Linked DNA regions of Homo sapiens. The protein of the gene in region 1 interacts with the protein of each later gene in a biochemical or structural test. Each region holds a gene or a part of one and is shown on either strand. Other genes may lie near its edges.

Region 1 (3,971 bases):
AAGTAGGCATACATCATAATGTTCTATTGAACATGAGAACTGCAAATTTTAACTACATTATCTAGAAAATGGCAACTGATCAAGTTTCAATAAAAGAAAAGAATGCATAATAGTTTGAGTGACTGAAGAGGTAAGTGAAAGCAAACTTTATTTTTTGTGCCCATAATTGGTGATTCTAATCCCCTTTTCTCATTAATAAGTAAAGATGTAATAAGTAACCTTAATATAAATTAGAAACTGTGGCTTCATTGTAAAATTTACTTCTTTTCATCTGTTAAATAAGCACAAGGATCTATATACTACTATAAGGGTTAATTGTTAATTTTATATGTTACAATAGTGAAATAATTAGAAGTAGGGACACAAAATAAATGTGAGTTGAATGGACAATAATCGGTGCTGTATAGTTAAGACATATAAAATCAGACAAAAGAGTAAAGATATAGAAAACCAAACCAATCTAAAGGTTGTGTTTGACCTTCATGATAAGCTATTACAGAATTCACCAAAACGAGTTTTTATTACTTCATGAAAAATACCACTATTCTTGATTTTTTTTTTCTAGATCTTAAACAATTATTAGACTATTGGATAATTGGGGCCTGTAAAAGTGTCCTGCAAATGTTAATAAATGCATTAAACATATTTCAATAGGTGCATACACATTTCATATTTGAACATATAACACAATGTATTATAAACAAGAAAAAAATAATGGTTGAATTTTATTATGATTAGCGACATCCATTCCTGGTAAAAACATTCTAAGCATTGGAGAAATTCAAAGTAAATGCTTTAATGAAAGTTATGAATGGGATTTAACATGGGAACTATGCATATGCAATATCATATTTTTCATATCAATGAAAAATTCCATAAAAATAGCTATATTAAATTTCATATGTAAATATTTAACAAATATGTTTGTATTCTTCTATTTTTATACAATGAATATTAATACATATTGCATTTATTTATTTTAATGACATTTATTTAAGTTCAATTGTACAAAACCTAATTTGTTGTCAAAAGTATCAAGCAATAAATTTTAAATATTGTACAGGGAATAATCGAGCATGCAAAATTGAAAACCCCATGTAAAGACAGCATGATAAGCTCACTGGAAATTTTTTAATTAAATAAGCTTAAAAAGACATTGGACTAAATGCTAATATATGGAATATAAGATTTCCCAATGTTAATTTAGTTAACAACTTTTTTGTAGTAGCATACACACACATACCACCTTTATGTACTATCTCTAGAAGTAAAATAGTAAACTATATAAGATAGATATATATGAGTAGAACAAGGAGGACATCTTGAGGTCATTTCAGAAATGTACATGATTTTATTGAGTCTGCACACAGTTTATGATTTTTAAAAACAGATCCTTCAAGCTAAGTTAACACTTCTAATATAAAATGTATTTTTTCTTCATAAAAACAAAGGAAAAGCAAAAGCTTTTAGATTCACTTGAAAGAATTCTCTCTCTTTCTCTGTCTCTCACACAAACACACACCCATACACACATACATATACACACATAACGATTACAAAGAAGTTGTTTTTTACTGAATAAGAGATAAAATTTTAAAATAAGCATACGTCTGTACAAACTGTTCTGGCAAAACTATCTTAAATATTTTTCCACAGTAGTAAAATATAACCCTTCTACAAATATTGGTTCGCTGCATTTAATTAATCCACTGTATACCTATTTTCACTTCCTACTTCTACAAAAATAGAAATAACAGCTAACAGGAGGTTTGGAGTTTCCTCATTTATGTCTTTTCCTATGAACCTTGATTTAAAGCTGGACTTGCAGGACCATTGACAGAATGTTCTGGCCCCTCAGTGCCACTCGTGGGTTCAGAACCTTCAGCCTGTTCCTTTGCTTCAGGGAGCTTTTCTGGGGCACCAAGTGGATTAACACAATTAGCATCCTGCTTTACTTTGTCCACTTCATTATCAAATTCAATTTTATCTTCTTGATGGTTGTTTTTCTTTACTTGTCCATTCTGAGCAGGGTAGGTGCTGGCAATGACGTCATATAGGAATTGATATTGCTCCTAGTAAAGGAATTAAGTGGGAAATTACATGAAGAAAGTTGATGTCATTATTTTTATGCCAGATGAAGATTAGCAAGAACTAATGATTTATTTGTGGAAGTATTGGATGACAGAAAAGTACTTTTTGATATGTTCTCATAAAAACATCTAAATAATTTAGTTTCTTTATGGTGCTAAAGGGTTGACTGCAGGATACTTTTTGAACTTTACCTTGGAGCAACCCCAAACCAGTGTTCACTCCGCTCATGGGCCATTTCCATGCCTTTGCTCATGATGCCACGTTTTGTACTTATCCTCCTGTCTAATGCCTACACATTATTTAAGAATCAGGGCAGGAATCACTGCTTCGAGAAGCGTTTCTTGATTCCTAAAGTTTAAATTAAATGCCCTCATTCATGTTCTTCTTATAATTTTTCTGTCATTTTACTCACTACATTGATTAGTAAATACCTGGCTTTCCCTCATACCAATTAGCTCTTTATAGCAAGAGCACATAGCAAGCATTTGATACATTTTTAAGTACCAAGATATGAAATCTCAATATCATACATGATTAAAAGCTTTATATATTTTAGTGAGTAATTAAGTTTACACTGTGAATAAGGATTAATTCCCAGATGACCATCTACAGTTACTACCACATAGAGGGTATACACGATAGATCGATTACAAGAATATAAAACTTATTTTCCTTCCTGTATCCACATTTCTTTGCAATGTGAATTTGCAGGCCCTCTCAAGAAGTGGAGTCTATTTCCCTACCCCTTGAATCTGGGCAGGCTTTATGACTTATTTATTTGGCTAATAACATACAGAAGAAGACATGTGTGTCACTTTTAAGCCTGGGCCTCAAGTGGTCTCACACAAGTCTTCTTTCCCTTGTGGAACTTGCTGCTTTAATGTGAATAGGCCTGGGCTAGTCTTCTGGATGAGGAGGGACATGTGGCCCACTCACTGTTGTTGCCATAGCTAAATGGCAGCCACATGCCAGCCTACTGGCAGTGTAGGTCACTTTAGACCAGCCAAACTGTAGGGCACACATCAGCTGAAGGCAGACACATGAGTCAGCCTGGTCTCTATTGCCTGAGCCTGAGGGCACCAGCAGAACATTCCAGCATATCATTAGACTACTGAACCATAATAAATGTTATTTGTTTAGGCTCCCAAATTTGGGGGTGGTTTGTTACACAACACAAATCGATACAGGAGTGAAGGAAAGAAAATTAAGAAATTCATGAGCATTTAGGGAAAGGCTCTTCATGAACTGTCACAACAAAGTGCTAGTAAACTTTAGGCTCTTATTTAGACTTATAATAATTTAATGTGAATTATCATGTAAAAGTAGAAAAGCTAAAAGAATAGGAAAGAAAATAGAGAAGAGAAAAGGAAAGGGGAAAAAAGAACAAACGAGAGGAAAGGAGAGGAGAAAAGAAAAAAGGAAACCGTCAAAAAGAAAAAAAAAATTCCGAGCATGTTAAAAGCAATGGTGAAGGATACTTACGAATGTGGAAACCATGCCTGGCCTAGCTTTGCGTAGAGCTTTTACCACTTGAAAAATATCCACTACCTCTTCTGTTTCCGCACTTTCTAAGAGATTTAACAAAGCACAAAATATTCCCGTTTGCTGAGATCCATCCCTATAAAAGAAAGAAAAGATAGAAAATAATCCTACTTCTCACCAAAAAGGGTGATATTAGAATAAAAACAGGAAGAGAGAGAATATATTTTTTGCTTCATGTTTATCATAATTATCTTATTCCAACCTCTTTCAAGAACCAAATTATTTACGCTAAATGCATTTTTAGGCAAATTTTTCAATTTAAGAGTGTGATAATCCTGGAATTGAAAACTTATTTGTCTTCGACTTTACAAATATATTTTCTTTTATTTAGTATTTTA
Region 2 (7,034 bases), on another chromosome or scaffold:
GAACATGATAAATGGCTTGCATGAGAATGAAATGTACGTGCAGCTATTCCTGCAACAGTGCTGAGGGTAAAGTGATAGTGGAAACACAATATTCCTTGTAGGAGTCCCCATGTAAGCGCCCTCCGAGAGACTGCTTTCTCACATGCAACGCGGGGAATGGGAAAAGACAACTTGAAGATGAAAAAACAAACAACTTTTAAAATTTAACCTATTGCTTTCTACTTGGGAAACAAAAATATTATAGAATCTTCGGACAAACATGTGGAACTAATAATAACAACAGTAGAACAATAGCAATAGAACCTATACAGCCAAGCCCTACCATTAAGGGCTGGCAAAGAAAACATACTCTATAAGTGATTTTGTACATATTAGTTTTACCCCTTTCCACTTTCCTGCTCTGGGCCTATCCACTCCCTCCAGCATCCAAATGGTTAGTAGGTAGTTAGAATTAAGGTTACCTGAGTAATGTTGTACAAGCTGCTGAAGTGTTTCAAACTGGGCCCGGGTGGTAATGTAGTATCCACCATTGTCAAGTTTGCGAATTTTATAATGTTTGACATGGTCTCCTTTCATATCATCCCAATCACGGATAGAAAGTGAATAGGCACCTGGTAAACGTGGAAAGCATTAGCAGCTCCAATCATTTAGAGTATCAGCTTGCTTTTTAGGCCTCATTTTCTTGACTCTGATTAATAATTACCAAGGATGCACACACACATGTACACACACACAGCATCTCCACTCAGTAACAGGAAGAAGATGCTTCTTGATGTTCTGCAAATGTCAGAATATATTAGCAATAAAATGATTCTGCCCTTGAGACTGAAAGCTTCCTGGACATTTTTCTTAAACACACTGTTCGGTACCCCTTGTTGCATAATACAGCGTAGACTCAATTCCAACACTCCTTTCCCCCAAGGGTAAAGAAGGACCACGATGAATGGCTGAGCTTGCTTCCCTTGTCTTCTCTACCCAGGGGCATACTGGGAGGTAGCAGCAGCATGTGCAAAAGAAATCTAAGGCTTGTTTCTCTAGAAGTGAGCTTCAAGCTTCTGCTTTACAACACTTTTTACAGGAATGGATAATCTGGCAAATTAAGCTAGAGGCCACTACTCTTTTCTTCCTTGACCTGTCTCCTCTTGTGGGTTGTAAGGAGTTGTTAAATAATGAAAAGTCCAACAGTTGGAGGAAGAGAAGTGAAGTCCTCAGTTATTTAAAAAACAAAAGGAAAGCAAAAACAACCTGTATGACTGGCACCTGAGGAACTAAGATTTCAGAAAATCAAAATTCTAAAGGACTTCTGAAAATTCTACGATCTTGTGTGCCTGGAGCAGTGTAGCTGCATCCAGCCCGTTTCAGGAGGAAGGTCTTGATTTGGGGCCTCTGTAGTTCTTTTGGTGCTGTCTGCAGTTTTAGAGCCTGGAGGGAAGACTGAAAACAGGACTCCACTCACAAGGCAGGGAGGGTATGTGCCATTTTAAAATCCTTGTACATTAGAGATAAGCCTTTCATCCCCTCTGACTAATCCACAGATTTGAATGACAAGCCAACTTCTTCAACTCGTTATCTTACCTTTGGTGGTTTCACTCTCGCGGATAAGAAAGGTACCTCTTGGGTTTCCAAAGGACAATAGCTGTCGCTCAGCATCTTTTCGGCCAAGTTTTCCAAAGTACCACCTTTAAATTAGATCAAGGAAAGAAAATATTTTGAAATAGTCATTTACAAAATGCAACAGCATAGGCTTTTTTTTTGCCCATGAATTCCCCTCTCCTCCAATTTAGTCCTTAACCTTTCCCTGGATGTATTTTTTTTCTAGCTTAATTCAGTTCCTTTTCAATCTATCCTGGATTCTATCCCTAATTCATCTCTTTCACTCTTTAAAAAAAATCAGATTTGAGTTGTGGGTTGTTTTCCTCCCCTCTAGACATGACCAGAACTGGTTTGTGTTAAAACTGCCACCTGTATGCAAAAAACCAGAAATCTAAGACCTTGATTTGAAATGGTTACTGCAGGAGACCCTTTCCACACTTATCTAAAAGACTCTAGTCTGGGCATGGTGGCTCATACCTGTAATCCCAGCACTTTGGGAGGCCGAGGTGGGCAGATCACCTGAGGTCAGGAGTTTGAGATCAGCCTGGCCAACATGGTGAAACCCCAGCTCTACTAAAAATACAAAAATTAGCTTGGTGTGGTGGTGGGCACCTGTAATCCCAGGTACTCGGGAGGCTGAGGCAGGAGAATCACTTGAACCTGGGAGGCCCAGGCTGCAGTGAGCTGAGATTGTGCCATAGTATTCCAGCCTGGGTGACAGAGCAAAGCCGTGTCTCAAAACAAAACAAAACAAAAAAAACAAACGCCAGGCATGGTGGCTCATGCCTGTAATCCTAGCACTTTGGGAGGCCAAGGTGGGTGGATCATGAAGTCAGGAGATGGAGACAATGCTGGCTATCATGGTGAAACCCCATCTCCACTAAAAATACAAAAAATTAGCTGGGTGTGGTGGCATGCACCTGTAATCCCAGCTACTCAGGAGGCTGAGGCAGGAGAATTGCTTGAATCTGGAAGGTGGAGGTTGCAGTGAGCCAGGATTGCGCCACTGCACTCCAGCCTGGGCAACAGAGCGAGACTCTGTCTCATAACAAAAAATAAACAAAAAAACAAAACTCTTGAATCTCTTGATATCTAAGCATTATTGTAACTGCTGGGAAATAACAAAACACAGTCTTAATGTATATGAAGATAATCAAGCATTAAAAAAAGTCAGATTAGATAGATATGATATGAATAAAGGAATAGTATTTTCAATAACTTCCTCCCTATAAGAATTCTGAGAAAAACGCCCATGAGTACTTACTTGTATTTTGTTTTCCTCCCCTAGGTGTGTGAGGACTTGGATAAGTAAAGGCATTTATTTACCAAGCACCTGGATTGTGATCTGTGTTCATCATCTTCTTCTTCTTTTTTTTTTTTTTTTCTTGAGACAGGGTCTCACTCTGTCACCCAGGCTGGAGTGCAGTGGCATAATCATAGCTCACTGCAGCCTTGACCTCTCCAGGCTCAAGCAATCTTCCTACCTCAGCCTCCTGGGACTAAAGGTGCACATCACCACACCTGCTAACTAAAAAAATTTTTTTTGTAGAGGCTAAGAGTGGTGGCTCATGATTGTAATTCCAGCACTTTGGGAGGCTGAGGCAGGCAGATCACCTGAGGTCTGGAGTTCGAGGCCACCCTGGCCAACATGGTGAAATCCCAACTCTACTGAAAATACAAAAATTAGCTGGGCATGGTGGCATGTGCCTGTAATCTCAGCTATTCGGGAGGCTGGGGCACGAGAATTGCTTGAACCAGGGATGTGGAGGTTGCAGTGAGCTGAGACAGGGCCACTGCACTCTAGCCTGGGGACAGAGTGAGACTGTCTCCCTATGTTGCCCAGCATGGTCTCAAACTCCTGGGCTCAAGTGATCCTCTCGCCCTGGCCTCCCAAGTGCTGGGATTACAGGAGGGAGCCATCACGGTGGACCCTGTACATCTTTTCTTTGGCACAACTGTAAGAACTGGTTACTGTACACCTTTGAGATCTGTGCCCAGTCAAAAAGCATGCCCTTAAAATGACTTGGTGTTGCAGATATTTCAATATATTATCCCTGAAGAAACTAATGATACTCTGTGCCACTTTAGGAGGCATCACATTAAGTCACCTCAAGACTTTTGTTATTTGCCTTATATCCTCCCCCTGCACTTTCAAGCCTTAACCAAGCCTGGCAATTAGTTACTATTTCAGCACTAGGTGCTGAATGAGCAGCAGGTGCCCCCAAAACCCAAGGGAGAATGCTGGAGCATTCAATTGGAATCTGTGTGTGGGAACCATTTTTAGAATATTTAACTGTGAAAGAATCCAGATTCTAAAATGAAATTTCAATTCATTATGCTTGAATATAGGTATCATGAGTTCACTGTCAAATTCTTTTGTGAATTAAGTTTCACTGAAGAAAAGAGACATTGCGTATTAGCTCCTCAGTGACTTTTAGAAACACCAAAATGTGCAACAATTCTTAATCTAGCATTAGGTGGCGTAAAGACTAGTACGTCAATTATTTGTGAGAAATGGCTTTCTGGGTTTGTACCAATAACCCAATTAGAATGCCGTGTAAAACAGTGGTGAAAAAGGAATTGTTAGAACAATGGATTGCACCAAAACAATAGTATTTTAAGATAATGATAGTTAATTGCATATGTAAAACCGAAGGCATTATTTTAAAAAATAATATTCTTTAAAAACAAAATATTTAAAAAGTTGACCATTATAAAAATAACTTAAATATATAGCTGACAAATTCCCAGTTAAATCAGGGTAATGCTACATTTTGGTGGTACTTTTTATTCTGAAAGAACACAAAGATGTTTGCAAATCTGCCCTAAAATACAAATTAAATACAAATACCTTGATTCACTGATGACGAAACACAGTCACTAGGAGAAAGAAACAACTAAGAACCACTGAGTATTTGAGAGTGGGAAACAAAACAGATCCTCTTAGAGGAAATACAAAGGAATTAAAGAATAGAACAATCCAACTGGGGATTTGGCTAGGGTGTGGAGTCTAATCCCTCTTGCACTACTTAAACAAATCCATGGTGAAATTAAATAGCAGAGCCAAAGGTTGGGCTTGGTGACTGACTTTTCTCAACTTCCTTTTTAGAGAGGCAAGACCCAAGGTGTCAGGAGGAGGCCAAGTTCCTGCATTTGGGAAATCATGGCTCCATCTCTCCTTCCCTCAGGGCTGGCAAACAGCCACTGGCAGTTCTTCCCCTTGGGAGTGCCTGTTAATCCTCATGGGTCAGAAGAAGGGAGAAAGGTTATCCCTTTTAGATCCCTTCAGCCTACTGAACACCTTCCTAAACTGCTACCAGTTGAATAGTTGGGCCAAATAACTGCTCGTCACTGTTTACTACCAAAGAAGCCAACTGAGGTTCCAAATCACTGTAGTATTTCCCAAGTTGGGGGGACACACTGTATGTGAGTCACTTTTACCGGGCATAGAAGGTGTCTTTTCAGCACTCTTTTAATATTTCTGATCACACTTAGGAGAAAAATCTTAGTTTAATCTGTGGCAATTACTTGCTACTCTCCCCTCTCTTCCCAACAGAGGGAGTGGACTGCGGGCTTAGAAACTTGGGTTGGCAATAATATATGCTCTAGCTAGCATTTCATATTTTTATGGCTACTTTTAATCTATGACAAGTTTTACTGGCTTTTCATTTAGGGTATTGATAGAAAGTTTTCTTTCAAAATAAGTGAGCAGGCTTCAAGAGAAACATTAAGTTAATAATAGTGCAAGTATTACACAGGGTAAAAACCGGGGCAGAAAGCCTGAAAAACTCAGCCTTAATCACTGCTGTGAATTTCTTCTCCCTCCTGCCCAATGCTGATGGCATTTTATTGCGGCAATCAACTTTTAAAATCAAGTAGTTAAGTGAAAACAAAATGAAACATACTCTTCTGCCTGGATAGAGTCAACTGGAGCCACATAATTGCTGGGAATGTAACCTGTCTCTCCAGTTGTCAAGGAGCGGGCTTCCCACCAATCTCCTTCCCTGTAAATAAAAAAGAAAAGTAAATATGTTGACCATTTCAACAGCTTGCAGTTAGAGACTCACTGTGGTCTGAAGTGTATAACTGTCACCTAATCATCCTGCCACCCGATTTCTCCAACCTATTCCTTTACTCTGAACTCCAACATAGTCCCCCTGTGAAGGTCAGAAGGTTCCAGTTCGAGTCAGCCATGAGATGAACCCACAGTTGTCTCTTGCCTTATTTGTGAATTAAGAATGTGGAATCCTGGCCATGAGAAGTCTCTCTTGGTAGGGGGCATTTTGCTTGGTTAGTGTCCTTAACTTGGATGGATGGAAAAGGAATCCAGCCTCAGCCTAATTAAGCAGAACATGTTAGCTGCAGATCATCTGGGAAGGGAAGCTTTTTAGGAGGTCTGAGGTCAATATGAGCTGCACAGTACTGCTTCCCTATTGTAAGCACCCCTCTCTTTCAAGTTCAAATCATGACATTAGAAATGTTAACATCTTAACATTGGGAGGTTAGGAGGTCTGATGAGGGATGAAGGCATGCTCTAAACACGTGCCTGGCTTGCTCTCAAAAAGATGGGGAGACACCTCTCTGCAGGTAGAATGATGCTACAGTAGGATCACCTTCCCCAGGCATTTTCAGTCTGAAGTGATTCCATCAAATGTCCAGAGCACTGGCCTGAGGCTCATGGGCAAGGGGTGAGGATGGGAATGGCTGCGTGTGCTCGCACAGGTGAAGCACAGAAACTCGGCAAGGGAGTGAGATTTTTAGTCACGCCACTTTGTACTGCCTTAGGCTCCATGCCACAGCACAGCAGTGTGGTATCAATCTGGGGAGCTCTCAGAGGAGGTGAAAGGGGATCTTGTAGCTACTCTCATCTTAAAGCCAGTGAGTACATTAAGCAGTTCAAATTCATCTGCTTAGATTCAAACAGGGCTACCTGTGATGAAGAGCAGGAATGGAGTGTGTACCTCTTCCCATTAACATCGGGGAGGCCATGGATGTGGCGCTGCGGCTCTGACATCCACTGAGTATCTGCAGAACCTTCCACCAGCCTGCAGTCAACGACATGATTGCCCTCAAGCAAATCAGACCTCCCAGCAAATCTGATCTCCTGGGGCTCAGGACCTTCTTTTCCTCCTTTTTTGGTCCTTGGAGGCAGCAAGCAAAACTTCAGGCATTTTAAAAAAAAATCGTTCTTTTGGCTGAGTTCTGTGTCAAAGCTTTCAGCCAGGGGAAAAAAAAAATGTGTTAGCTTCTGGCCATGGTAAAGATGCTCCCCAGACAGATTTAATCAGGTAGAGAATAATCAGCCTCCACATTAAACTCAAGCATTACTCCAGAGGCCGCTCTCTAAAGCTGGACTCTCTGAGCAAGGTGAGCAGTGAGCAACGCCTCCAGATAGGATTTAATAGAGCAACAGAACAAAGGTGACCAGCCAGCATGTGCTG
Region 3 (7,034 bases), on another chromosome or scaffold:
TCACCATGTTGGCCATGCTGGTCTTGAACTCTTGACTTCAGGTGATCCACCTGCCTCAGCCTCCCAAACTGCTGGGATTACAGGCATGAGCCACTAGGACCAGCTACAAGGCATATTCACAGGCAAGTTGTTTACTATCTCTAGGAATTTGCCTACCCTGGGAGAGGTAGTCTTTTCAGGATTAGCACGGCCCCAAGATGTCAAAGCATCAGAAAATACAGACAATAAATTATGAATGTTATAGCCATATTTAAACTCTGACTTTGTTCATGCTGGTTGCTTAACTGCTTTCATTATTGTTTTGGAAGCCAGGCTGAGCGACCATCTGACCTCAACAACCAGAAGATCCCAGCAGAAAAGAGAAGTACTCACCCAAATAGCCTGCTCTCACTTCTGGTGTCAATGGTTCATTCCCAATAAATGTGTCATCCTGCAGGTCTGCCTTCAGGTCAAGAAAGCCCCCAGCCCAGTCCTTGGCTCCTACTGCCCCCACGACTGCATGGCCCTGCCCAGGGAAGGAGATGAGCGGGTCAGCTACCCACCGACCCACCCCCCAGAGCCAACTGCACTCCCTGCAGCCCATTGCTCCAGCCCAGCACGCACCCTGCTGAGGTCAGCACTGATGCCGCTGGAGGACAGCTCCATGTTGAAGGAAGTCAGGTCCTGTTTGCTTGTGCCTGGGGAACAAAGCAGAGAACAGGTGAGACCCAACAGCAGTAAATGCAGTGAAAAAAATTCATGGCAGGACGGGGAAGAAGTGAGGTATTTACTTCTGGGTAAGGTAGAAGGCATGCATGTGAGGGTCAGGCAGACCCAGGAAGTGGCTTAATGCGGAGTTGGCTTTTACCCTGGGAGTCCCAGATTTGTTTGTTTTTTGTTGTTGAAACAAGGTCTTGCTCTGTTGCCCAGGTTGGAGTGCAGTGGCGCAATCACAGCTCACTGCAGCCTCAACCACCCAAGCTCAAGCAACCCTCCGGGCTTAGCCTCCTGGATAGTGGGGACTATAGGCACACACCATCACACCTGGCTAATTTTTTTTTTTTTTTTTTTTTTTTTGAGATGGAGTCTCTCTCTGTCACCGAGGCTGGAGTGCGGTAGTGCAATCTCAGCTCACCACAGCCTCTGCCTCCTGGGTTCAAGCGATTCTCCTGCCTCAGCCTCCCGAGTAGCTGGGATTATAGGTGCACCACCATGCCCAGCTAATTTTTGTATTTTTAGTAGAGATGGGGTTTCACCATGTTGGCCAGCCTGGTCTCGAACTCAGGTGATCCACCCGCCTCGGCCTCCCAATGTGTTGGGACAATGACAGGTGTGAGCCACTGTGCCCAGCCTCCAGATTTGAATATCCAATTACTCATCTCCATGTGTCCAAGACTCAGCTCTTGGTTTCTGCTCTGACTCAGGCTTCTCACTTCAATGAATGGCACCCCCACTCACCTAATGAACCATGCTAAGAAACCAAATCCACCTGGAGTCTTCTCTATACTCCATCTCATCTCCAACACATCACCAAATCATGATACTCCTGCCTTTGAAATACACCCTTTTTCTTTTTTTTTTTTTTGAGACAGGGTCTTGCTGTGTTGCCCAGGCTGGAGTGCAGTGGTGTGATCATAGCTCACTACAGTCTCAAACTCCTAGGCTGAAGAGATCCTCCTGCCTCAGCATCCCAAGTAGCTGGGACTACTGGTATGCACCACCGTGCCTGGCTTATATAGCTTCTCCTTAAGAACTCTTCACTGGCTGTGCGTGGTGGCTCATGCCTGTAATCCCAGCACTTTGGGAGGCCAAGGCAAGCAGATTACCTGAGGTCAGGAGTTTGAGACCAGCCTGACCAGCATGGTGAAACCCTATCTCTACTAAAAGTACAAAAATTAGCTAGGCATGGTGGGACATGCCTGTAATCCCAGCTACTTGGGAGGCTGAGGCAGGAGAATTGCTCGAGGCTGGGAGGCTCAAAAACAACTGGAGGTTGCAGTGAGCCAAGATCGCACCACTGCTCTCCAGCCTGGCTGACACAGTGAAACTCTGTCTTGAAAAAAAAAAAAGCCAGGCACAGTGGCTCACACCTGTAATCCTAGCACTTTGGGAGGCCAAGGCGGGCAGATTACCTGAGGTTAGGAGTTCAAGACCAGCCTGGCCAATATGGTGAAACCCCGTCTCTACTAAAAATACAAAAAATTTATCTGGGTGTGGTGGCAGGCGCCTGTACTACTAGCTACTTGGGAGGCTGAGGCAGGAGAATCGCTTGAACCGAGGAGGCTGAGGTTGCAGTGAGCCAAGATCACACCACTGCACTCCAGCCTGGTGACAGAGCAAGACTGTCTCAAAAAACAAAACAAAACAAAACAAAAAACCTCTTCATGGGCTGGGCACAGTGGCTCACGCCTGTAATCCCAACACTTTGTGAGGCTGAGGCAGAAGACTTGCTTGAGCCCAGGAGTTAAAGATCAGGCTGGGCAATATAGTAGAAACTCTGTCTCGGCCGGGCGTAGTGGCTCATGCCTGTAATCCCAGCACTATGTGAGGCTGAAGCAGGAAGATTGCTTGAGCCCAGGAGTTCAAGACCTGCTTAGGCAATATAGTAGAAACTCTTTTTTTTTTTTTTTTTTTTTTGAGACGGAGTCTCACTCTGTCGCCCAGGCTGGAGGGCGGTGGCACAATCTTGGCTCACTGTGAACTCCACCTCCAGGATTCACGCCATTCTCCTGCCTCAGCCTCCCGAGTAGCTGGGACTACAGGCGCCCGCCACCACGCCTGGCTAAGAAACTCTTGTCTCTACAAAAAATTTAAAAATTAGCCAGGTGTGGTGGTGTGTATCTGTAGTCCCAGCTACTCAGGAGGTCAAGGTGGGAGGACTGCTTGAGCCCAGGAGTTTGAGGCTGCAGTGAGCCGTGATCGCACTACTGCACTCCAGTCTGGGCAACAGAGTGAGTCCCTGTCTCAAAACAACAACAACAAAAAACTCCTTCATGATTTCTCATCGATCTTCACACTGAAATCCAAACTCTTTCTGAGGGCCTGGAAGACCCTTACCTCCCTGCCAACCTTCTCTCTCCCTTCCTCACTGCGCTTCGGTCACACTGAACTTTTTCCATTTTCCTGGCATGCCGAGCCCTTTCCCCGCCCCTGGGCTTGCACCTGTGCTTCTCTCTGCCCTCATTCCACCTTTCTCACATTGCTGTTTGAATCTCATCTTTCATATCTCAGCTTAAAAGCCAGTTGAGAGTGAGTTTTTTTTAAAAACTTTTTTTTAAAAAATCACTTTTCATTTTTATTAATTATTTAGACATGGCTTCTTGCTATGCTGCCCAGGCTGGACCATTGCTGCTGATTTTTTTTTTTTTTTTGAGACAGTTTTGCTCTTGTCACCCAGGCTGGAGTACAGTGTCACAATCTCAGCTCACTGCAACCTCTGCCTCCTGGGTTCAAGCGATTCTCCTACTTTAGCCTCCCAAGTAGCTGGGTGACCTCAAGTGATCCGCCTGCCTCAGCCTCCCAGAGTGTTGGGATGACAAGCGTGAGCCACCACGCTCAGCCCATTGCTTCTTTAACTGAACCGAACACCAAGGCTGTGTCCTAGCAAAGGAGACTTTCCTGTAGGAATCACATATCTTTCAGTCAAGTAAGCTTCCTGGGGAAATGCCCTCCATAACCAGTCCTCCATCTGGTGACCACAATATAAATCTTCTCTTATTCTAGGCCAGGAAAGAAGACTTGTGGGTTCTTCACACTGGCCCCTGCCAGCCTGCCCTTCTGAAGTAATGTGGAGCCTTGGATAAGTGACAGCAAGACAGTTGAGCAAGAAGGGGGAGGAATTACATTCACTCTGCGGGGCTCAGATCACACCAGCAAGACATAGGTCAGTCCTAGATCAACCTGAGCTCCAAGAGAAGATGGAATTTCAGAAAGAAATATCAGAGAGGGCCGGGTGCAGTGGCTCACGCCTGTAATCCTAGCACTTTAGGAGGCCGAGGTGGGCAGATTGCTTGGGGCCAGGAATTCGAGACCAGCCCAGGCAACATAGCGAGATCCCTGCCTCTACAAAAAATACAAAAAATACAAAAAAAAAAAAAAAAATTAGCCAGGTGTGGTATCACACACCTGTAGTCCCAGCTACGTGGGAGGATCACCTGAGCCTGGAAGGTCAAGGCTGCAGTGAGCTGTGATCATGCCACTGTACCCCAGCCTGGGTGACAGAGTGAGACCCTGTGAAAGAAAAGCAAAAAAGAAAAGAGGCTGGGCGCAGTGGCTCACGCCTGTAATCCCAGCACTTTGGGAGGCCAAGGCGGGCAGGTCACGAGGTCAGATCGAGATCATCCTGGCTAACACGATGAAACCCTGTCTCTACTAAAAATACAAAAATTAGCCAGGCGTGGTGGCTGGCGCCTGTAGTCCCAGCTGCTCGGGAGGCTGAGGCAGGAGAATGGCGTGAGCCTGGGAAGTGGAGCTTGCAGTGAGCAGAGACTGCGCCACTGCACTCCAGCCTGGGCAACAGAGCAAGACTCTGTCTCAAAAAAAAAAAGAAAAGAGAGAAGAGAAAAGAAGAGAAGAGGAGGGGAGAGGAAGGGGGGAGGAGAGGGGAGGAGAGGGGAGGGGAGGAGAGGGAAAGGGAAGGAAGGGAGGAAGGAAGGAAGGAGAGAAAGAAGGAAGAGAAAGAAAGATCACAGAGGCTGCTCTCAAATGGCCCTCTCCTAAATTCCTTCTAAAGGTCTGTTTTATTTAGGCAAGCCCTTGGCACAAGATCAGATATTCAGTAAGTGCTTATTATTCTTTGTGTTTCTAATAGGATGTCCCAGGGGAGGTTTTTTTTTGTTTTTTTGTTTTGTTTTGTTTTGTTTGAGACTGAGTCTTGCTGTGTTGCCCAGGCTGGAGTGCAATGGCACATCTCAGCTCACTACAACCTCCGCCTCCTGGGTTCAAGCGATTCTCCTGCCTCAGCCCCCTGAGTAGCTGGGATTACAGGCATGCACCACCAAGCCCAGCTAATTTTTGTATTTTTAGTAGAGACGGGGTTTCGCCATGTTGGCCAGGCTGGTCTCGAACTCCTGACCTCAGGTGATCTGCCCACCTCAGCCTCCCAAAGTGCTGGGATTACAGGTGTGAGCCACCGCGTCCGGCCATTTTTGTTTTTTGTTTTTTATTTTTTGAAATGGAGTCTTCCTCTGCCACCCAGGCTGGAGTGCAGTGTGGTGCGATCTTGGCTCACTGCAACCTCTGCCTCCTGAGTTCAAGCGATTCTTGCGCCTCAGCCTCCTGAGTAGTGGGATTACAGGCACCCACCACCACACCTGGCTATTTTTTGTATTTTTAGTATAGATGGGGTTTTGCCATGTTGCCCAGGCTGGTCTCAAACTCCTGAGCTCAATTGATCCACCTGCCTCGGCCTCCCAAAGTGCTGGGATTACAGGTGTGAGCCACCAAGCCCGGCCTGATGTCCCAGGGGAATTTCTTTATGCAGACTCCCGAGCCCTCTCCCAGGGCCTGCCACTCACCCTCAATGACATAGATCTTCTTCTGCAGCTCAGTGAATAGATCTTTCAGCTTCTCAAATGTGTCCAGAATTTTCACAAACTCGCTCGCGGGTTTTGATGCAAATTTGTGGAGGGTCTCCTGACTCTCCTTGGTCTGAAAATGCTTTCCAATCTGTGAGGGAGTGGAGAGTGAAGAGCTGAAATCCCCCAAACCTCAGTCCAGTTTGCTATTATTTTCACAAGAGTCTGGCCCCAGGGAGAAAGGGGCTTGGGGTTCAGAAAGAGGAGAGGGAAGATATGATGCAGGAAGCAGCAGGGGCCCTACCCCGATGATGTAGCGGATGATGTCTTTGGCCGCATCGATGTTGCCACTGTCAGTGGCCTCCCCATCCGTGATGATGATAAGCACTTTGGTGGCATCTGGCCGGGCCCCCAGCTCCTCCCGGAACACCTCTGTCCTGTGTCCAGGAAAGGAGGAGATGAGAGACTCCCCCAAACTAGGGCCTGAGGTCTCTTTCCCCACCTGCTCATCAAGTCACCTCCATGCTGGTTACGCAAAAGCCCTTCCTGGATCTCCCAGGCCGGGATTCCAAGCCTGCAGCAGTCACCTCTAAACCTCTTTGCTGCCACCCCTTTCCTTCTGGACCAGTGGTCCTCACACTGCATCCTGGGCAGTCCAGAGGGTGTCCCAGAGCCCATGGACAGGAGGAGGAGGTTTTGTGAGGAATGACTCTGGGCTTCCTACCCTCCATTGCAACCACATGGCCACCACTCTTTAATCAGCTACAGATATTGATCCAAGTGAGATTTCAATGTGGAAGAGAGGGTCCTACAGCTGAAGAAAACTGGGGAGTCACTCTTCCAGAGCAAGCTCTTCCAGCACCTCCTCTGCCTTCCCATAGTCCACAGGCTGCCTCCGGATCTCTACCATAGCAGTGAACCTAGTGAATTACCGTGACTCATTTCTCTGTCAATTTTCCCCCTAAACCATGAGTTCCTCAAGGAAAGGACCATGTTGGATTTGTTGCTGTATCTCTGGCTCCCAGCACAAAGGAGGCGGTTGTGCATGTGAGATGAAGGAGGGAGAACTAGTGTTACAGCTCTTTTAGAATTTGTCTAGCAGGCTTTCTGTTTTTTGCTAAAATCCTCCACCCTCAAAAAAATTAAAAAAATAAAATAAAGAAGGGAGAACTGAACACCAGATGGGCCAAGGCTAAAAATTTCTGCCCTGGGAGTTCCAGACCATTCTGGGCAACATAGCGAGACTCCAACTCTACAAAGATGAAAACAATTAGCCAGGCATGGTGGTGTGTGATTGTAGTCCCAACTACTCAGGAGGCTGAGACAGGAGGATCGCTTGAGCCCAGGAGTTTGAGGCTGCAGTGAGCTAGGATCACGTCACTGCGCTCCAGCCTGGGCAACAGAGTGAGACCTTGACTCTAAAAAAAAAAGAAAAAGAAAATTCCTGTTTTGCCCACAGCCTTCCTCTGAGCAAGTTGGGTTGGCCATAGCTCTTGCTGGAACAGCAGCAAGGTGTGAACCGTCTTACCCATGAACACC
Region 4 (7,034 bases), on another chromosome or scaffold:
TCATGGGGAGTGTTCAGTATCGGCATCTAGAGATCTCCCCTGGCCCCATCACAGCTAGAGCTATGCTGTCCCCTTTCAGGGACATCTTGTAATTTATCCACCCAGCCCCCAACTGATGGACATAAAGGCTGTCTCCCCATCATCTCCTGCTACTACAGACAGCACTGCAGGGACTGTCCTGCTGTGTTTTTTTAAGGCATGGGTACTCCAGAAGCAGTTGCTCAGCTGCACCCCCAAGGTTGAGTGGAAGTCCCTCGGTAAAGGAGGAGGAGAGAGTGTGAAGGGAATGGCAAGGCGGGGAGGGAGACAGGGCACAGGTGTCCTGGCAACAGCAGATGGGAAACAGGTCTGGCTAAGGTACCAGAAGCCAACAAGTCCCAGAAAGGTCAAGTGACTTTCCCAAGGTCACACAGCAAGTTGATGGCAGAGCTGGGTACAGGACTCAGAGCATCTGACACCCAGGACGATGTTCCTGCACTGTTCCATAGAGTAGCCCGACTCTTAAGTTTAAATAACCCCAGGAAGGACCCCCTCTCTGTGCCTGACCCCCGCTGGGTTGTAGAGGCCTAAGTTTGCAGTAGCTCCTCCCAGCCACTCTGGCTGTCAGCCTCTGACCTGCAGTGGGAGGGTCTCACCTTCTGGAGATGTTTTAAGGAGGGGACCCCGGCCTAGGCACTAGCTGGGAAGCCACTGAGCCATCTTGTCTGCGGCCACTGACGTCAGTGCTTGGGCACAATGCCAGCCTGTTCCCGGGACCCCAGCACAAGGGCTACTGGGAGCCGGGTTTGGGGCAGGAAGTCAGCGTGAAGCACTGGTCCTGCCACATCCCAAGCCCCTTGTCCCCTAGCTCTGTGGGGGTGGGGTGACAGCTGCTATCGCTTTGGGGTTAACTATAGTCCCTTTGGGGTTAACTATAGTCCCATTGGTTATGGGACCTCAGTGTGATGTAGCCAGGCTGGATTCCCCCTTTTGTTTGTTCATTTATTCATTCATTCAGGGGTCTCATGACCCCACCAGGGAGGAGCCGTCCAAGAGAGTTAGCAGCTCCCACTTGCAAGATGTCTGTGGCAAGGCAGGCACTGTTCTGGTGCTGAGAGCTCAACTCCAGTCCTCACAGCAGCCCCCAGAGCCAAGGAGTATCACCAGTCCATTGCACAGATGGGGAAGCTGGGTTCTAGAGTCACAGCCAGCAGAGTAAAGGTGATGAGTTTAGCCCTCTTCCCTGTTTCCAGACCCTCTGAGGCCTTCAGAGCCCAGCTCCTTGAGGCAGCCCACCCCGACCGCTCCTAGGCTTACCCTTCCCTGAGCACCGCCCCTGTGCCCCTCATAGCTGCTTCTGCCTCCTCCCTCCTCCCTCCTCTCCCTTGCCCCTAGGCTAGTGTGGTCCCCATGGCAACTCCTGGGGCCTGTCCGGCAGGGAGGCACGGGGCTATGGGGAGGGCTGGCTCAGCAGCTCAGGAGTTTGACACCTGAGGGGGACAGAATGCTCACTCAAGGTGTGGCCCTAGGGACCCCCGCCTTGCCCCTGTGGGCCTCACTTGGGGTTCTCATCTGCAAAATGGGGATAATAATAGCTTCTCTGTCTCAGAGTTGTTAGAGGATGTGATGAGCCATAACGTGCCAAGGACAGGGCCTGGCACAGAATAAGTGCTCAGAAAACAGGGCCTGTTATTATTTTTATTATTATAATCAAGGCAGTGGGGAGGCGGCGGTGGCAGTAGCTGTAGGCCAGGAAGGGAGTGTTTGCAAACTGACAGCTGGAAGGGTGACTAACAGCGCAGCAGCCTCCGCGCCCCCCTGTGGTGGCAGGGAGTTTGGGGAGGAAGGGGGAGGCATGGGGATGTGGAATGCTAGCAGGGCCCCTATTCAGAAGGACCTAAAGGTTGGGGGCCCAGCCAGCCCTAGTGGGACCCTAATTCAAGCTCTGTCACCCCTAACTAGCTATGTGACTTCAGGCAAATTGTTCAACCAGTTGAGCCTCAGTTTCCGCTTCTGTGAAATGGGGGTAAGAGGGTTAGAAGAGCTCACAATCCTCCTTCCCTCCCCGCCACCCCCACCCCCACAGCTTACAGTCCACAGGAGGCAGGGGCAAGGGGTCCTCACCACCCCCACCCTCACAGCTTACAGTCCACAGGAGGCAGGGGCAAGGGGTCCCCGCCACCCCCACCCTCACAGCTTACAGTCCACAGGAGGCAGGGGCAAGGGGTCCCCGCCACCCCCACCCCCACAGCTTACAGTCCACAGGAGGCAGGGGTAAGGGGTCCCCGCCACCCCCACCCCCACAGCTTACAGTCCACAGGAGGCAGGGGCAAGGGGTCCCCGCCACCCCCACCCTCACAGCTTACAGTCCACAGGAGGCAGGGGCAAGGGATGGTTCCTGTACTTAGTGGTGACTGAGTCATGTGGATGGAGGCAGGTTTCAGGCTCATCCTCCTTGGGCCTCAGTGTCCCTGCCTAAACAGCAGGATTGATGGCCTGGCCTCTGGGGATAGAAAGGGCCCTGTATTCTGGGAGGAACGGAAGCTCTTTCATCCAGGGGATGGGGCAGGGGCGCACCAGACATTTCCAAGTTCAGGGTTTCATTCCAGCCCCTCCTCAGCCAGCTTGCAGGAGATACCTGTCCTCCCCTTCAGGGTAAGCAAGACTTAGAAGGGTTGAGTCACTCACCCCAAGTCGCACAGTCAACAGAGCCAGGTATTAAGCCCAGGCCTGACTATAGAGCCAGGTGTGCGGCCTGGAAGTGTTGGTTCTCCCTGGCCGTCTCCTCCCCAGCTCCTTCTGCTCTCCATGATCACATGCCCCCCTGCTGAGGCCCCATCGCCCTTGGAGTCAAACCCTGGTTCCTCACATTGGCAGTGGAAGTCCCCCTGCTGCCTGGCAGAGTTTATGCCAGGCCCACTTGAAACCATCCCCTACAGTGTCCCCTGAGCAGCGGTGCTCAAGGTGGACTCTGGAAGTGTGTGGGGTCCTAGAGCCCCAGATGGGCAGGGTCTGCCTTCCCGCTTCCCTCACCATCGGCTTCCACCTGGGCCAGTTTCTCATACTATGCCAGTCCCCTGCCTGACACCTTTGCTCAGACTGCTGCATCAACCTGGGGTGCCTTCCCTGGCCCGCCCTCTGCCTGTGTAAGCCCTGCAATCTTCAGGGCTCAGCCCCAGAGCTCCCTCCTCCAGGGAGCCTGTCTGAGCTCTGCAGTCCGTGCCTACTTCACACCCCCAGCACTTTGCACTAAAATGTCTTCTCCCGCGCCACTGCACTCCAGCCTGGGCAACAGAGCAAGACTCCGTCGCAATAATAACAATAATAATAAAATAAAATGTCTCCTTCCACTGGGGTAGGTAGCAATATTTGTGACTGTCAGCCTAGCCCCCAGACCTCATCCACTGTATCAAAGAGCCCAGCAAAGAGGCTCATGGAGGAGTTTCTCTTCTAACACACTGTGACCACGAAGATGCCACTGGCCCTTTCTCACCCTCAGTTTCCTCACCCGTAGAAAGGAAACAGTAGTTCCAGCCCCTCTGCTTCCTGAGACAGGTCCAAGGGGGCTCTGGGCTGGGATTACAAAGTATGTGTGTGCAGACGGGTGGGTTGCTGCTCTCAGGGAATGGGGTTGGCTAGGGTAGCTTTTTTGGGGAGTCAACTTTATTGAAGTAAATATACGGTTGACCCTTGAACAACACAGGGGTTGAGGGCATCAACCTCCTCCCTGCAGTCAAAAAATCATATATTAACTTTTGACTCCTCAAAAACTTAACTACTAATAGCCTATTGTTGTCAGAAAGCCTTGTAGATAAAGTTGATTGACACTCATTTTGTTTGTTATATATATTATATACTGTATTCTTACAATAAAGTAAGCTAGTGAAAATAAAATAAGAAAATCATATGGCCGGGTGCAGTGGCTCACACCTGTAATCTCAGCACATTGGGAGGCTGGGGCAGGCGGATCACTTGAGGCCAGGAGTTCAAGACCAGCATGGCCAATATGGTGAAACCCTGTATCTACTAAAAATACAAAAATTGGTCTGCTGTGTTGGCGCACGCCTATGATCCCAGCTACTCAGGTGGTCAAGGCATGAGAATCACTTGAACCTGGGAGGCGGAGGTAGTTGCAGTAAGCCGTGAGTCACCCCACCACTGCGTTCCAGCCTGGGCGACAGAGTCTTGCTGTCTCAAAAAAAAAAAGAAAGAAAATCATAAGGAAGAGGAAATATATCTACTATTCTTTAAGTCGAAGGGGATCATTATGAAGGTCTTCATCCTTCACATTGAGTAGGCTGAGGAGGAAGAGGAAGAGTTGGTCTTGCCGTCACAGAGGTGGCAGAGGTGGAGGCGGAGGAGGTGGAAAGGAAGGCAGAAAAGGCAGGCACACTCAGTGTAACTTACTGAAAAACATCCAGCCACGTGTGGTGGCGCATGCCTGTGGTAATCGCTACTTAGGAGGCTGAGGCAGGAGGATTGGCTGAACCCAGGGGTTTGAGGCTGCTGTGAGCTATGATCACGTCACTGCACTCCTGCCTGGGCAACAGAGTGAGACCCTTTCTCAAAAAAAAAAAAAAAAGAAAAGAAAAAGAAAAAATCCATGTGTAACTGGACCTGCGCAGTTCAGACCCGAGTTGTTCAAGTGTGCACTATACACCAAAAAGTGTGCCGATCGCAATGGTACAGCTCAGTGAATTGTCACAGAGTGGACCCACTTCATGATTGGGCTCAGACAGTCTGAAAACCAACCCCAGAGGTCCCCTTGCATTCCTTCCAGTCTCCCTGTCCCAAGAGCAGCTATCCTGACAGCATGGATTAGTTTGGCCAGATTTTGAACTTTATTCAAATGGAATTACATAATATGTACTTTCCTGTGTCTGGCTTCTTGGTTAACATTTTATTTATTTATTTATTTATTCATTCATTTAGAGGCAGGGTCTCACTCTGTCGCCCAGGCTGGAGTGCAGTGGTGTGACCTTGGCTCACTGTAGCCTTGACCTCCCCAGGCTCAAGCGATCCTCCCACCTCAGCCTCCTGAGTAGCTGGGAGTACAAGCACGCAGTACCACCCCCGGCTAATTTTTGTATCTTTAGTAGAGACCGGGTTTCGCCATGTTGCCGAGACTGGTCTTGAACTCCTCCTGGGTTTAAGCCATCTGTCTGCCTCAGCTTCCCAAAGTGCTGAGATTACAGGTGTGAGCCACTGTGCCTAGCCATCATTATGTTTTGAAATTTATCGGGATTGGCCAGGCACGGTGACTGGCACCTGTAATCCCAGCATTTTGGGAGGCCGAGGTGGGTGGATCACCTGAGGTCAGGAGTTCGAGACCAGCCTGGCCAACATGGTGAAACCCCATCTCTACTGAAAATACAAAAATTAGCTGGTTGTGGTGGTGCATGCCTGTAATCCCAGCTACTCAGGAGGTGGAGGTTGCAATGAGCCGAGATTGTGCTACTGCACTCCAGCCTGGGTGACAGAGCCAGACTCCATCTCAAAAAAAGAAAAGAAAAGAAATTCATCAGTGTTATTTAATGGTTGGAGTTTGTGTTGGAGTTTATTTAATGGTTGGTGTTTACTGCTGTACGTAGTCCCTTTTGTGAATATGCCACTGTTTATCCATTTTCCTCTGGATCGGCATCTGGGCAGCTCCCAGTTTGAGGTTTATTACAAAGCATGCCACTTGTAGCCCTCCTGTGCCTGTCTAGGCAGACACATGTCCTGTGTCCTCTCGGTGTGTACCTAGAAGTGGGGTTGGTATATGTTTAGAGATGCTACCTGGGCGGGATTTTGCAGGTGAAGGACCCAAGGACCCACAGAGCATAAGGGACTTTCTCAGATCACATAGCCCCTTCTCAGAGCTGCTCCGGGGCCCCTTTCCCCACAGAACAGTAGCTGGAACCAGGCCTGGGGCTGACGGTCAGGTGTCCATTGTCCCACTAGCCCCCTTTGCTCCTTTCTATCAGTCCTGGAAGGCCCCCTGTGGCCTTAGGGTTGGTGGCTCCCTCTGCCCCTGGGGGTCCTCAGCCCTCATGCTCCTCTACCCAGTACCGTCAGCCTGCCAGGACTGGAGAGAATGGCCCATGTGTCAAATCCCAGCGCAGGACACTCTTGGCACCTGTTCATGCCCAGTGAGGAGCCAGATCTCAGCAGTTGGGGGGCATTTCTTCACACCCCTCCTCAGTCTTCATGCTCTTCCCCACAGCTCTAATGGTACCAAGTGACAGGTTGGCTTTACTGTGACTCGGGGACGCCAGAGCTCCTGAGAAGATGTCAGCAATACAGGTACCACAGGGGTGAGGGTCTGGGACATGCAAGCATTCCCACCAGCCCCAGCGGGGTGCTTAGCAGAGGAGAGAGGATGCAGCTTAGATCAACCCACTCCCCTTTTTCCCAGCACTCAGTCAGGTACAGGCCTGGGGAAGTGGGGGAGTCTCAACAGGAAGGGACCCAGGGCTCGTTCTCCGGGCAGAGCACCTCACCCAGGCTCACAGAGGCCAGCTCAGAGGCTGTGACCACGAGGGTGCGCCAGCAGGTGGCTGGAGGGGGCCCAGGCTGCACCCGCCCACGTGTCACCTGCCTTGCAGGCCGCCTGGCCATCCGGTACAGAATGTATTGCCAAGTACAACTTCCACGGCACTGCCGAGCAGGACCTGCCCTTCTGCAAAGGAGACGTGCTCACCATTGTGGCCGTCACCAAGGTAATCAGGTGACGCCCACCCCACCATCCCACTGCTGGGCCTTCCCTCTGCAGGGGGAGGTGGGCCTGAGAGCATGTCTGGGCTGCCCTCTCCCCAGGACCCCAACTGGTACAAAGCCAAAAACAAGGTGGGCCGTGAGGGCATCATCCCAGCCAACTACGTCCAGAAGCGGGAGGGCGTGAAGGCGGGTACCAAACTCAGCCTCATGCCGTGAGTACCACGAGGAGGGGTTGGGGAGGGAAGGGGCCTTGGTCCTCCTGAAGGAGCATCAGGAGCAAGCAGGGAGGCCAGAGTGAGGGGCTTGGGTGTTGGGGAGGGCCTCAGGAGGAGGTGCAGGGTGCGGGTGCGGGACCT

Evidence for each region.
Region 2: the proteins of PTPRC (region 1) and FYN form a complex in vitro, tested with the Homo sapiens proteins (one study listed by BioGRID).
Region 3: the proteins of PTPRC (region 1) and ITGAL form a complex in vitro, tested with the Homo sapiens proteins (one study listed by BioGRID).
Region 4: of the proteins of PTPRC (region 1) and CSK, one has a biochemical effect on the other in vitro, tested with the Homo sapiens proteins (2 studies listed by IntAct).

What each region holds. Positions count from the first base shown.
Region 1 is NC_000001.11:198,754,007-198,757,977, reverse strand, and holds the end of PTPRC (receptor-type tyrosine-protein phosphatase C isoform 1 precursor), read right to left. Parts: intron 3,710-3,971; coding exon 3,574-3,709; intron 2,073-3,573; coding exon 1,797-2,072; 3' UTR 502-1,796; downstream 1-501. UniProt on the Homo sapiens protein: Protein tyrosine-protein phosphatase required for T-cell activation through the antigen receptor. Acts as a positive regulator of T-cell coactivation upon binding to DPP4.
Region 2 is NC_000006.12:111,702,424-111,709,457, forward strand, and holds part of FYN (tyrosine-protein kinase Fyn), read right to left. Parts: intron 6,634-7,034; exon of another isoform or gene 6,583-6,633; coding exon of another isoform or gene 6,524-6,582; intron 5,598-6,523; coding exon 5,499-5,597; intron 1,680-5,498; coding exon 1,576-1,679; intron 612-1,575; coding exon 462-611; intron 1-461. UniProt on the Homo sapiens protein: Non-receptor tyrosine-protein kinase that plays a role in many biological processes including regulation of cell growth and survival, cell adhesion, integrin-mediated signaling, cytoskeletal remodeling, cell motility, immune response and axon guidance.
Region 3 is NC_000016.10:30,482,725-30,489,758, reverse strand, and holds part of ITGAL (integrin alpha-L isoform a precursor), read right to left. Parts: intron 6,622-7,034; exon of another isoform or gene 6,565-6,621; intron 5,933-6,564; coding exon 5,800-5,932; intron 5,647-5,799; coding exon 5,496-5,646; intron 865-5,495; exon of another isoform or gene 793-864; coding exon of another isoform or gene 771-792; intron 678-770; coding exon 604-677; intron 506-603; coding exon 373-505; intron 1-372.
Region 4 is NC_000015.10:74,792,049-74,799,082, forward strand, and holds part of CSK (tyrosine-protein kinase CSK), read left to right. Parts: intron 1-997; exon of another isoform or gene 998-1,200; intron 1,201-6,163; exon of another isoform or gene 6,164-6,184; 5' UTR 6,185-6,249; coding exon 6,250-6,264; intron 6,265-6,566; coding exon 6,567-6,680; intron 6,681-6,777; coding exon 6,778-6,890; intron 6,891-7,034. UniProt on the Homo sapiens protein: Non-receptor tyrosine-protein kinase that plays an important role in the regulation of cell growth, differentiation, migration and immune response.